Regions from separate parts of the Homo sapiens genome. Here region 1 is linked to region 2. A link means that fine-mapping ties the variant in region 2 to the expression of a gene that starts in the linked region. Tissue or cell type: sun-exposed skin. Region 2 holds a variant in brackets; the other region holds the start of a gene. All regions are shown on one strand. Distances are between the middles of the regions.

Evidence for each region. PIP is the estimated chance that this variant, and not a neighbour inherited with it, causes the effect.
Region 1: PTK6 starts here. The variant in region 2 is fine-mapped to the expression of PTK6 in sun-exposed skin (GTEx, PIP 0.95).

The regions. Positions count from the first base shown.
Region 1 is chr20:63,534,895-63,540,287 of GRCh38, forward strand. PTK6 (protein tyrosine kinase 6) reads right to left here and starts at 2,482. Exons shown (of 8, transcript NM_005975.4): 1 at 2,191-2,482; 2 at 44-165. The coding sequence starts at 2,420. It overlaps SRMS (src-related kinase lacking C-terminal regulatory tyrosine and N-terminal myristylation sites), which reads right to left. Exons shown (of 8, transcript NM_080823.4): 8 at 3,595-5,393. RefSeq lists enhancers at 2,581-2,670, 5,089-5,258, silencers at 2,791-2,940, 3,271-3,540 and a cis regulatory region at 5,174.
Region 2 is chr20:63,678,826-63,684,218 of GRCh38, forward strand. It overlaps RTEL1 (regulator of telomere elongation helicase 1), which reads left to right. Exons shown (of 35, transcript NM_001283009.2): 13 at 1,024-1,121; 14 at 1,839-1,894. It overlaps RTEL1-TNFRSF6B (RTEL1-TNFRSF6B readthrough (NMD candidate)), which reads left to right. Exons shown (of 38, transcript NR_037882.1): 13 at 1,024-1,121; 14 at 1,839-1,894. Among named protein-coding and RNA genes, the nearest start is that of TNFRSF6B, 15 kb to the right of the region's middle. RefSeq lists enhancers at 3,163-3,887, 4,614-5,338. The variant G/A (reference allele first, on the strand shown) is at 2,993.

The sequences.
Region 1 (5,393 bases), 140 kb before region 2:
GAGCCCCCGCAGGCAAGCACAGGCTCGGAGGCCGGGGCCGCACCCGACAGGACGTAGTCGGCACTCGGCTTCTCGCTGACCCTGATCAGGAAGGCGCCCGTGGCGTTGCCCTCGGCCTGCAGCCGACGCACAGCTTCCGAGCGGGAGATGCAGCCAAAGAACCACCTGCAGGGGAGGAGTCTGAGAACACGCGGACCTGGGCCCACCCCACGTGGACCCCACGCTGGCCCCAGCCTGCCCGCCTGGAACCCCAGCCGCCCTTGCCTGCCACCTCAAGCTCCCAGCCCTGACCACAGCTGCTCTCAGGAGCTGTCGCTGACCCAGACGCCCTGAATGTCCCGAAAGGCCAGGACAGGCCCCTGAGGACCCGGCGGGGGCAGGGGCAGGCGCTACCACACCCTGCCCTGAGTGGCCCGAGTCTAGGGGTCAGAGCCTAGGGTGGAGCTGGGGAGGGCAGCTGAGCAGGATGGCTGCCCAGAGCTGCCTGCACACACCCATGTGTGACGCACGCTCACACACACACAGTCACAAACCCCCACACATGCGCACAGTTCACCCGCACACCTGAACACACACGCGCATGTGTGCTCACTTGCCCACACGCTCACACGCACGCACACACAGCCACTCGCGCGCACTAACTCCCGGCTGCGGGGTGTGGGCCAGCCCTGGACTGTGGACTTCCAGGTGGAGCTTGCAGAAGCTCCAGGTGACCTGCGCCCTTTGTGTGTCTGACTCCCTCAGGTCACTGGAACACAAACCCCACACAGAAGACCACGGCCCAGCATGGAGCCCCTGGGGTCCACCCCCTCCACTTCCGCACACCTGGAAGCACTGCCCCACCTGCCCCTCCAACCACCTGGCCTCCCGCCCCCCCCCTCACCTGGCCTCCCGCCCCCTCCTCACCTGGCCTCCCGCCCCCTCCTCACCTGGCCTCCCGCCCCCCCCCTCACCTGGCCTCCCGCCCCCTCCTCACCTGGCCTCCCGCCCCCTCCTCACCTGGCCTCCCGCCCCCCCCTCACCTGGCCTCCCACCCCGTCCTCACCTGGCCTCCCGCACCCCCCTCACCTGGCCTCCCGCCCCCCCCTCACCTGGCCTCCCGCCCCCTCCTCACCTGGCCTCCCGCCCCCTCCTCTCCTGGCCTCCCGCCCCCTCCTCTCCTGGCCTCCCGTCCCCTCCTCTCCTGGTCTCCCGCCCCCCCCACCTGGCCTCCCGCCCCCCCTCACCTGGCCTCCAGCCCCCCCCACCTAGCCTCCCGCTCCCCCCCCCACCTGGCCTCCCACCCCCTCCTCACCTGGCCTCCTCCCCACTTCTCACCTGGGCGAGTTCTCAGGACTCAGGGTCTTTGCACCTGGGAGCTGACCAGCCTCCGGCCAGACCCCACCCCTGCACCCCTGCTCACTAACGAGGTCGTGGGTCTGCGCGTGACCCTGCTAACGAGGTCGTGGGTCTGCACGTAATAGAGGGGTCTCCACCATGGGCCCCTGCCCGACGGCCTCTTTACAGCCTCCCCTGCTTGTTGCTTGGGTCCCCCGGGAGCTAACCCTACACAGCCTGTGACTCACGCACACACACAGTGGGTGCCCAATCACTGATGAGAAACGCGGGATCTCAGGAGCGTGACCCTCCTCAGCCTGAGCTCCGGGCAGCTGTGGAAGCCAGGGCCAGGCCACACCAGCTGCTGTCTGGTTCCCCGCAGGGCACAGCAGGCAGGAAGTTTGCCCGGCAGCCGGCCCGCTCCCCTAACTAGGTCGTGTGTCTGGTTCCGGCACTTTGGAAACTGGGCAAGCTTCAAGCTTCGTTTCCCCCAAAGGCCCTGGAACGCTCCGACAGACCTTGTCACTGGCCACCGGGCCCCAGAAGTCCACCCTGGACCCTCTGTCCTCCCTGGGTCCCGGCAATGCAGCGTCCACCCCCGAGCTGTGACAAGGATGAGCCCAAGGCAGGGGCCGTGCCCTCTGACCCCCGTGCTCCAACTCCCGCAGGGACAGTCCTGGGCACTCCTGGGCGCCAGCGCATGGGGCCTGCAGGGAGGATCAAGCGGGATGCCCAGCCTGGACTTTGGGGTGCAGGAAGATGGAACCGGGGTCCCCACCTTCTTGGGCCTCCCTGAGCAGCCCAGAGCCCTGTCCCTCCCCTGTGCCTAGAGGGTGGCCTGTGCCAAAGCTCCCAGCAGCCTAGGACACGCACGGTTCCGACTCCACCGTCTCCCTCTCGGCCAGGTAGTTGTGGGGCACATAGCCCTGGGCCACGGCCCCACCCGCCTCGTCCAGCAGCGTGGCCCACCACCACTGCTCCTCCTTCCTGGCCACGTGGAAGACGTCCCCCGCGCGGAAGCTCAGCTCCTCGTCCGTCCGGGACTTGAAGTCCCAGAGGCCCACATACTTGGGGCCCAGGTGAGCCTGGTCCCGGGACACCATGGCGGGCGGGCGCAGCGGCAGGACCAGGCTGTGGCCCAGCTGGAGCACCCAGAGCTGGGCGTGGCAGGCGGGCCGTCCCACTTCCTCATGACAGGCCGGGAAGCAGCCACACCCAGCACCCACAGGCGCTCCAGAGCACCCCGGCTCCTCCTGAGGGCCCAGCCGGCCCCACAAGTCCTCAGGCCCACTGGGGCCCATCTGAGCACTTAGCGCCCGCACTATGGGAACCCACTGGGCAAGCACCGCCAGGGCCGGCCTGAGCGCAGGAGAGGGGGAGGAGGACCTCCCGGTTGGGGCTTCTTGGGGGTCCAACTTATGGACACTCAGGCACTCAGGGAAGCCAACGGCCCTCTGGGAACAAGCCTCGCAGCCTGAGGGCAGGAAGGTGAGGGCTGCAGGCGCTGCCTTCCCAACCCTCAGAGCTGCGGGGGCACAGGTGGGGGCCGCCTCTCTCCCCGCTTCCGGCAGCTTCCCCTCCACCCGTCGGTGCCCTCACCCAGCCCCAGACTCCACCCCTGAGCACAGGGCCCAATGTCAGGAGCTGCTGTGGGCAGGCGTCCTGAGAGCGGCCTCATGGGCAGGCCCGCCCTCGGGTAAGGGCCAAGCAGGGAAGAGGGAGTGGAATCAGGGCAGCGACAGCTGTGTGGGTCGGCCCGGAGGACTTCCCGGAAGAGGAGGGCCCGAGGGTTTTGGGGGATCCCCGGGGAGGCAGAGCCAGGGGCACCCACGGCTGAAGAAACGGGCACTGCCTTCCTCCACACGGACGCCAGGGGGCAGGCAAGGACCGTGAGTGCGGCCTGGAAGCGCCCATGGCGCTGGGGCCCAAGGCCACAGGTCCCTCCCAGGCAGCCCCTCCCGCCTCCAGCCTCTGCCTCCTCCTGTCCAGCCCGCAGGACCCCTGCCCCCTTCCAGCTGGCCTCCCTTCTCCCGACTCATGCCTGAGTGAGCCCTGCCGTGACCCCCACCTGCACCCGACGGCCGCCTGCCCCCCAGCCCCTGAGACTCGGGACACCCCCTCCCTGGAGGCCCCTCCCCGCCCCACCCTCCCACTGACCCTACTGTGTCCACCCGGGAGCTCCAACCCAGGGACCTGGACTGGCAGCCACAAGGGGGCAGGAAGGGGCGGGAAGGGAAATTCAAAGTCTGCAAGGGGTGGTAAGGAAAGTCCCTAAACTGCGTATTTCAACTTTTATTTTTATTGCAAAGAGAAATAATGGCACCTTCCACTCATTGTTTTGAGATTAAGAACAATAATCTGGATTATTTAACAGGCTCATAGATTTCTGGGCAGCCCAGCTCAGCGCTGACCAAGGTGGGGAGGGGCAGCGGGGTGCCGGCCTGGGCAGTGTCCCTCAGGCCCTCCCAGCTCTGTCTGGGGTCGGTTGGGGAGGATGCAGGGGGAGGGGTGGGGGGTGGGGAATGCGGAAGGAGGGTGCCGGGGCACCTGGCCGGGCAGCGTCCCTCAGAGCCCGGCCAGACTCTGGGCCCGTGAGTCTATGTCCAGGAAGCCTCGAGTATCCCTGAGTTCGGACGTGCAGGACTTTCAGTCTAAGCCACACCAGGAGGCAGGAACGTCCCCAGCCCCTCCCAGATACCCAGGAGCACCAAACCTGTTCAGCTGGTGGCTGGCGAGATGCCTAGGAGGGCACAGGTGCCACAGACACACCTGGTCCCCTTAATCCCAGTGGCGGCTGCAGAGAGCACAGAGGGCGAGGCCTTCTGTGCCAGAGGAGCCCCCAGGCTGCTGTGCTGGGGACCTGCCAGAACTGGAAGCTCAGCTCAAGGCCTCAGTGGGCCCAGGTACCAGAACCAGCCCCTCCCCTAGGTTCTCCCATGCAGATGGAGCTGGGCAGGTGGCCAGGGTCCCAAAGGCTCAGATAAAGCCTCTTGCCTCCACCATCTGCAGGGGTCCTGGTTCCTGCTGCTTCCCTCCGCTTGGCCTTGTTCCTCCGATGCACGGGCCCCAGGAAGCCCCCGCGCTGCCTCCGTTCTCGGAGCCTCCGAGTGGCCTCTTCCTTCCCCGGGGCCACCTGTCTCTGCACACGGGAGTCTCATCTCTTAGCTCCCTCCTGAGCCAGGCTTTGGCCGGGGCCTGTGGACGGCAGCCATCAGCACTTCGGCTCAGCAGGTACAGAGCTGACCCCAACTCTAGGGGACAAGGACTCAGTCAGGCCTGAACTTGTCTCCAAACTTTCTGTCCCCGAAAGCCTTCTGGGCACAGCTGCCAACCTGGGCTCCCAGGAGGGTGGGGGGCAGGGTCTCCGGGGGCCACAAACAGACCCCACCGGCCCCCTTGCTTCTTGACGTGTTTCACGAAGACCTGAGCAGAAGCTTCCCTGAGCCAGACGTGGGGAGACGAGGGCGGACCCTGCACATCCCTGCCCCCTCCTGCCTTGGTGACCCCCGAGGACTCACACCCAGAGGCTTCCTGAGCCACTTGCTGCCCAGCATACCATGGCATCTACCTCCGAGCCCCCAACCGACCCTGCCTGACCCTGCACAGGCAGAAGACTCCAAATCCCCCACGGCCCACCCTGAGGCCCCTGGAAATAGCCTCCAAGGGCAGCTCCCAGGTCACCAAGCCTCCCGGCCCACCCTTCCTGTGCCACCTGGAACCCACCCAGGGAGATGGAATCGGCAGCTCCTGCCAATGCCCTTGGGGCTCACGCTCTCTGGGCACCATGATGTCCTGGGCTGGGGGTCCGGGCGGCATGGGGGCCGCTCCAACCTGCATTTTCTAGCCACGTGGACCCGTACGCTCCAGCTCCTGGGTCTGGGTTTGGGGGGCTGAGCCTGTGTGTGATGTGCGCCTGTGTGCGTGTCTGAGTGGGTCAGTCCCGGCTTACTGAGTGCTGTGTGCGTGAGTGGGTTTGTGCACAGGCCGCCAGTGTGTCTGTGAGGGGCAGGTGACGGTGCCACCCCGTGCCTACATACCACACATCCAGTGGGGTCAACACCACGGTCTGCCTGGGA
Region 2 (5,393 bases):
CACCCACGGAACGGCACACACTCCCACGGAACAGCAGACTCTCCCACGGAACAGCACACACACTCCCACAGACAGCACACACACACCCACGGAACAGCACACTCTCCCACGCGGGGCCGCTGGGTTTCCTGCAGTTTCTCCTCCTCCAGGCCTTTCCCTGGACCCTGGTCCAGTCCGTCATTTGAGCACAGGTGCCTGTTAGAACGAGACCTTCTTGTTAGGACGATGAGTGTCCCAGCCACCACCTCTTTTGGACTCCGGGAGGCCTGGAACGTTCTGAACGCTCCGTGGGGCTCCAGTCTTCTCCGCAGCCAGGGCAGCAGGGTTTGCTGTCTGTCCTGCAGGCAGATGAGGAGTCAGGGCTGGGGCCTGTGTGGGGGCTCTCCTGAGCGCACAGCCGCCGAGGTGGAGCGTGTTCTGCCTGAGCGCCGACCTGGTCGGGGGAATCCCAGTTGCTTCCAGGTGGAGCCACTGTCCTCAGCGTAATGCTCAAGGCTCTGGCCTGGCTCCTCGGCCACCCTGCACCCTCAGGGTCCCCTCCTGTAGCTTCTGCTGCCCCATCACTGTCACTCTCCAAAGCTTTGGGGACTCTGCCCAGAGCCACCGCCTCCCAGAAGCCCCTGACAACCTCTTGACGACCCCCTAGTGACCCCATCCCTCCCCTCTGACGGCGGCCCCTGCTCTGAGGCGGCTTCTTTTCCTCGGTGCTGTTCTCGTGCTGGCCAGGCCTCCTCTCCCCACCTGGAGGCTCCTGAGGGCGGAGGCCTCTCACCTCCAATGCTGGCGTCCCCTGGAGGGCTGAATTTGTTTCCGAGGGAAGGAAACTTCCACAGTTGTTGCCTTCAGTTCCAAAGCTGCAGCCTGATTTCCCCCTCCAGGCTCGAGCCTGTTTTCTTCTCGGCAGCTACATCTTTGACCAGTGTCGTCCCCCCTCAGGCCCGAGCCTGCCTTCTTCTCCTCAGTTCCCAAAGCTGCAGTCTGGTCCCCCCGCCAGGCTCGAGCCTGCCTTCTTCTCCTCGGCAGCTACATCTTTGAGCTGTTTGCTGAAGCCCAGATCACGTTTCAGACCAAGGGCTGCATCCTGGACTCGCTGGACCAGATCATCCAGCACCTGGCAGGACGTGAGTGCTGGCACGGGGTCTTTGGTGCGGGCAAATGTGGCGTAGGGGGTGCAGCAGGCCTCCATCTTGGCAGTCAGGGCTCCCCTGGCCGTCACCTGGCCGTCAGCAGGAACAGGCCCACAGAACCTCATCTTCTGATCGGGGCGTGGAGGCGTTAGTGCCACTTGCCAGCTGCCGTAGAGCCTGTCCCAGTTCTGCAGCTGGCGGCTTCGTCCTACAGCCTCATCCCATTATTCTGCTTTTGAGAAAGAGCAGCCCAAGGCCCTAGCTGGCTTGTGGGGCCTCTGGCTTCTCCACACCACCCCGAGTTCTGCTTCTCAGAGTTGTGGGGTCCAGAGGCTTTGCCCAGAGGCGGTGTCCCCATGGGCTGCTCTGGTTTGAGACGCCGGGCCCAGCGGGGTCTCTCCTCTGCTGCGCTCCCGGGTGCTGGGGAGGGTGGCTTTTGCTGCTTCAACCCTTAGGCGACCATAGAGCCTCTTTTCAAGTCCCACTGACCCCCTTGGAGACTCTGTCCCTGCCTGGCTTCTCTCCTGGCTGCTGGGAAGAGCAGGCGAACTGCCCGCCCTGAATGGATGCTGCGCTCCACCCTGGGCCCCCCATTGGGCAGGAGATGGAGCTTGGCAGTCGGGCTGAGCGGGCTCATGCTGGAAGGGCCGGGGCTGGGGTCGGGGCCTCCCCTGCCTGCAGTGTGGGTGTCAGCGCCCTGCTGCCCTCCAGGTGCTGGAGTGTTCACCAACACGGCCGGACTGCAGAAGCTGGCGGACATTATCCAGGTGGGGCCTGCTCCTCTGTGGCATCTCCTTCCCTGATGGAAGCCGGGCGGGTGCCTTCTCCTGCTGTATTAGTTAACTGATTCTAGACTTGGGGATGGGAGAAAGGCCCCTACACCACCTGTTTCTGATTGGCAAACTCTCGGCTCCTTTCCAGTGCCCTAAACCCACACTGGGCCTCCTGCAGGGATGGGGGAGGACGAGGTCTGGTGGCACATGCCCAGGGTGATGCTGGTGAGGGAGGACGCAAAGGACAGTGGGGGCCGGGGAGCCGCTCCTGCCCTGTCCGGGCCCTCAGGCCAGGGGGGACCCACTGCTGGCAGCCCCAGCAGCCCCAGCTGCACGCAGATGAAGAGCTCTGGACACACGCGGCTTCCTGAACAGCTTCTCCAGGGACAGACAAATGGGGACCCTGCAGGTTCCCGGCAGGGGTGTCCCTGGGAGCCCATGATTGGGGGTGCGACCCTGGCCCCCTTCTCATTGGCCCCGTCCTGTCCTGCAATGCCCGTCCCATGTGAGGTCTGCTTCTGGCTCCATGCCTATGGCAGCACCTGCTTTCCCTGGCGTAGAGGTGCTTGTCCGGTTTGTGGAGGGCACGCCCCATTTTGGGTGCTCTGGGCACGTTGCCTCTCCGGGGCCTCGGTGGCTTTTTTAGAAGCAGACTCAGAAGTCCCTGACTGGGGAAGCCAAGGCACAGGTGGCTGTGTGGAGCCCTGTGAGGCCTCCTCTGTGCTGCCCACGCTGTACCTGCTGGCCACACGAGATCATGGCAGGGTTAGGCAGGGCTGCCCAGCGCTATGACAGCTTCATGAGTGTCCATCTGGCCTGTGGGGTGCTTGAGCTGGGGGAGGCCGCAGAAGAACCCTGGGATGCATGGCTGGCCTGTGCATGCTGCTGGGCATGGAGCTGCAGATCCCGGAACAAGCAGGCACTGCCTTCTCCTTCACAGACGCAGCTCTGAGCGGGGGCGAGACCTGGGCAGGGACCAGGTGGGGTGGGCACAGGGTGGTGGGGCCCAGGCTCAGCCCTCCCTCCACTGTGGCCGTCTCTGTGGCCAGTGACGCCACAGCCTGTGTCTTCTCTGTGCGGTAGCTGGGGCTG[G/A]AAGGACAGCACTGCCTTGTCCTCCCAACTCCTCCCCAAAGGCACGGTGGGCATCCCAGGCCCAGACCCCTCTGTCTGTGGCTCCTGCCTGCCAAGGGCTGCTGTGCTGTCCCGCATGGAGTGTGGTTGGCTCTTCAAGCAGGAGGCCGTGCACCTATCAGGCGGACCTGCTTCCATGTCCCTGATGGGTCACTGCAAAGCACCTCCAGCACATGGCCAGGCGAGGTAGCCCTGCAGCCCAGGGCCTGGAGGGCAGGTGTGAGCTGGCCCGGGCCTGTCCCTCCCTGGAATACAGCTTCCCAGGCTCCCACTTATGGAGAAGTCTCCTCCACACTATGGAACTGAATCCTAGAATGTGGCTTCTGAGGTTCCTACACTCGAACTGAATCCTGGAATGCGGCTTCCAAGGCTTCCAGCTATGGAGAAGACTCCACACTCTGGAACCGAATCCTGGAACGCGGCCTCCCAGGCCCCCAGCTATGGAGAAGACTCCACACTCTGGAACCGAATCCTGGAACGCGGCCTCCCAGGCCCCCAGCTATGGAGAAGACTCCACACTCTGGAACCGGATCCTGGAACGCGGCCTCCCAGCCTCCCACTTAAGGAGAAGTCTCCACACTCTGGAACCGGATCCTGGAACGTGGCCTCCCAGGCCCCCACTTAAGGAGAAGACTCCACACTCTGGAACCGAATCCTGCACACTCCATCGGTTTGGAATTTCCTTTGGCTGCTGCTCTAAGTAGCCGCTGGTGGATGACTCAGCTTCTGCCAGCCCTCGGGTGCCTGGAGGATGAGGGACTGCACACAGTGCTCACCCGCGTTGGCTCCTGAGCCCCTGCAGGTGTGGGCGGTGCCCATAGGGCTGGTGCTGGGTTGGGCCTGCAGCCCTGAGTCACAGGTGACCCTGGGGGCAGAGTGGGGCCAGTGGCCCCAGGAAGAGGATGTGGGATGCACAGCTCAGCTGGAGGCGAACTCCAGGCAGGGTCAGGCCGTGTGCTCGGAAGTCAGGGCTTAGCTGGAGGCAAACTCTGGGCAGTGCTGGCCCGTGTTGGGGAACCAGTTGCCCCTGGGCCCCCGTGAGACTGCTGGGTCCTCATCCCTCTCTGCCTGAGGCCGGAGCTGCCCTGGGCTGAGGCACAGGGGGATTTGTGGTGGTGTTTTTTTGAGAAAGGGTCTCGCTTTGTCACCCCGGCTGGAGTGCAGGGGCTTGATCACAGCTCACTGCAGCCTCAACCTCCTGGGCCCAAGTGATCCTCTTGCCTCAGCCACCCGAGGAGCTGTGAACACAGGTGTGCACCACCGCACTCAGCTAATTTTTAAAATTTTTTTGTAGAGATGAGGTCTTGCCATGTTTCCCAGGCTGGTCTCAAACTCCTGGGCTCAGGCAGTCTGCCCGCCTTGGCCTCCCAAAGTGCTGGGATTACAGGCAAGAGCTTCCATGCCTGCCCAGCAGAAGGCTTTTCGAAGGAAGCTGTTTCCTGAGGCAGACTCAGCCCTGCTCATGGCAGCCACCAGCGTGGGGGTGAACTTGTTCTGTTACTTCCATCCCCGTGGGCCAAATGCTTTGGTAAAACACAAGGCCCTGTGTTTAGCTGTCTTGACAGTGAAAATGGCTGGGAAGGAAGGAAGGAACGGAAGGAAATTTCTCTCTCCTTCTGTGCGTACCCAGGCACGTGCACATGCATGCAGAGTACGCACACACGCACGCACGCCTGCACAAATCCACGCATGTTGCCAAGTCTCTGTGTTCCAGCCGTGGTGTCTGCCCCCCGGTGTTCTCTAGTTCGGCTTCTCCGCATTTCTGTGAATGATTCCGGCTTCTTGGTGTTCCCAGCAGAACTCCCTCAAGTCTGCGGCGGGGCTCTGACGGCGGTGGCTTGGCTGACATGGCCACATTGCTGAGCCTGTTGGGGGCTTTGCGTTCCTGTTCTGGCCGTTTTTGGCTCGTTTTCCAGGAACGGTCGTCACGCGCTCCTCTCCTAGTGCAGGCATCATTCCTTTCCCATTGATTTGCAGGGTTCTCTGTAAGTTCTGAGGATCCCATATACATATACTCTCTGTAAGTTCTGAGGATCCCATATACATATTCTCTCTCTAAGTTCTGAGGATCCCATATACATATTCTCTCTCTAAGTTCTGAGGATCCCATGCCGACATACATATTCTTTCCTTGTCTCATGCTGGTCATTTTTTCCATTTTCATGACAGGTTTGGTGAACACATGTTTCCTTGTCAGATTTTTGTTCTGAGCTTGTGCCTCCCGACCAAGATGCTAAACCGGGTCTTGTGTATTCTCCAAACTGCACTGTAGAGTGACGGAGCTTTGTGTCTGGGCCTCCATGCCTTCTGACGTCACCTGTGGGGGTGTGAAAGGCAGACTCTACCTTGATTTTTCCCAGCA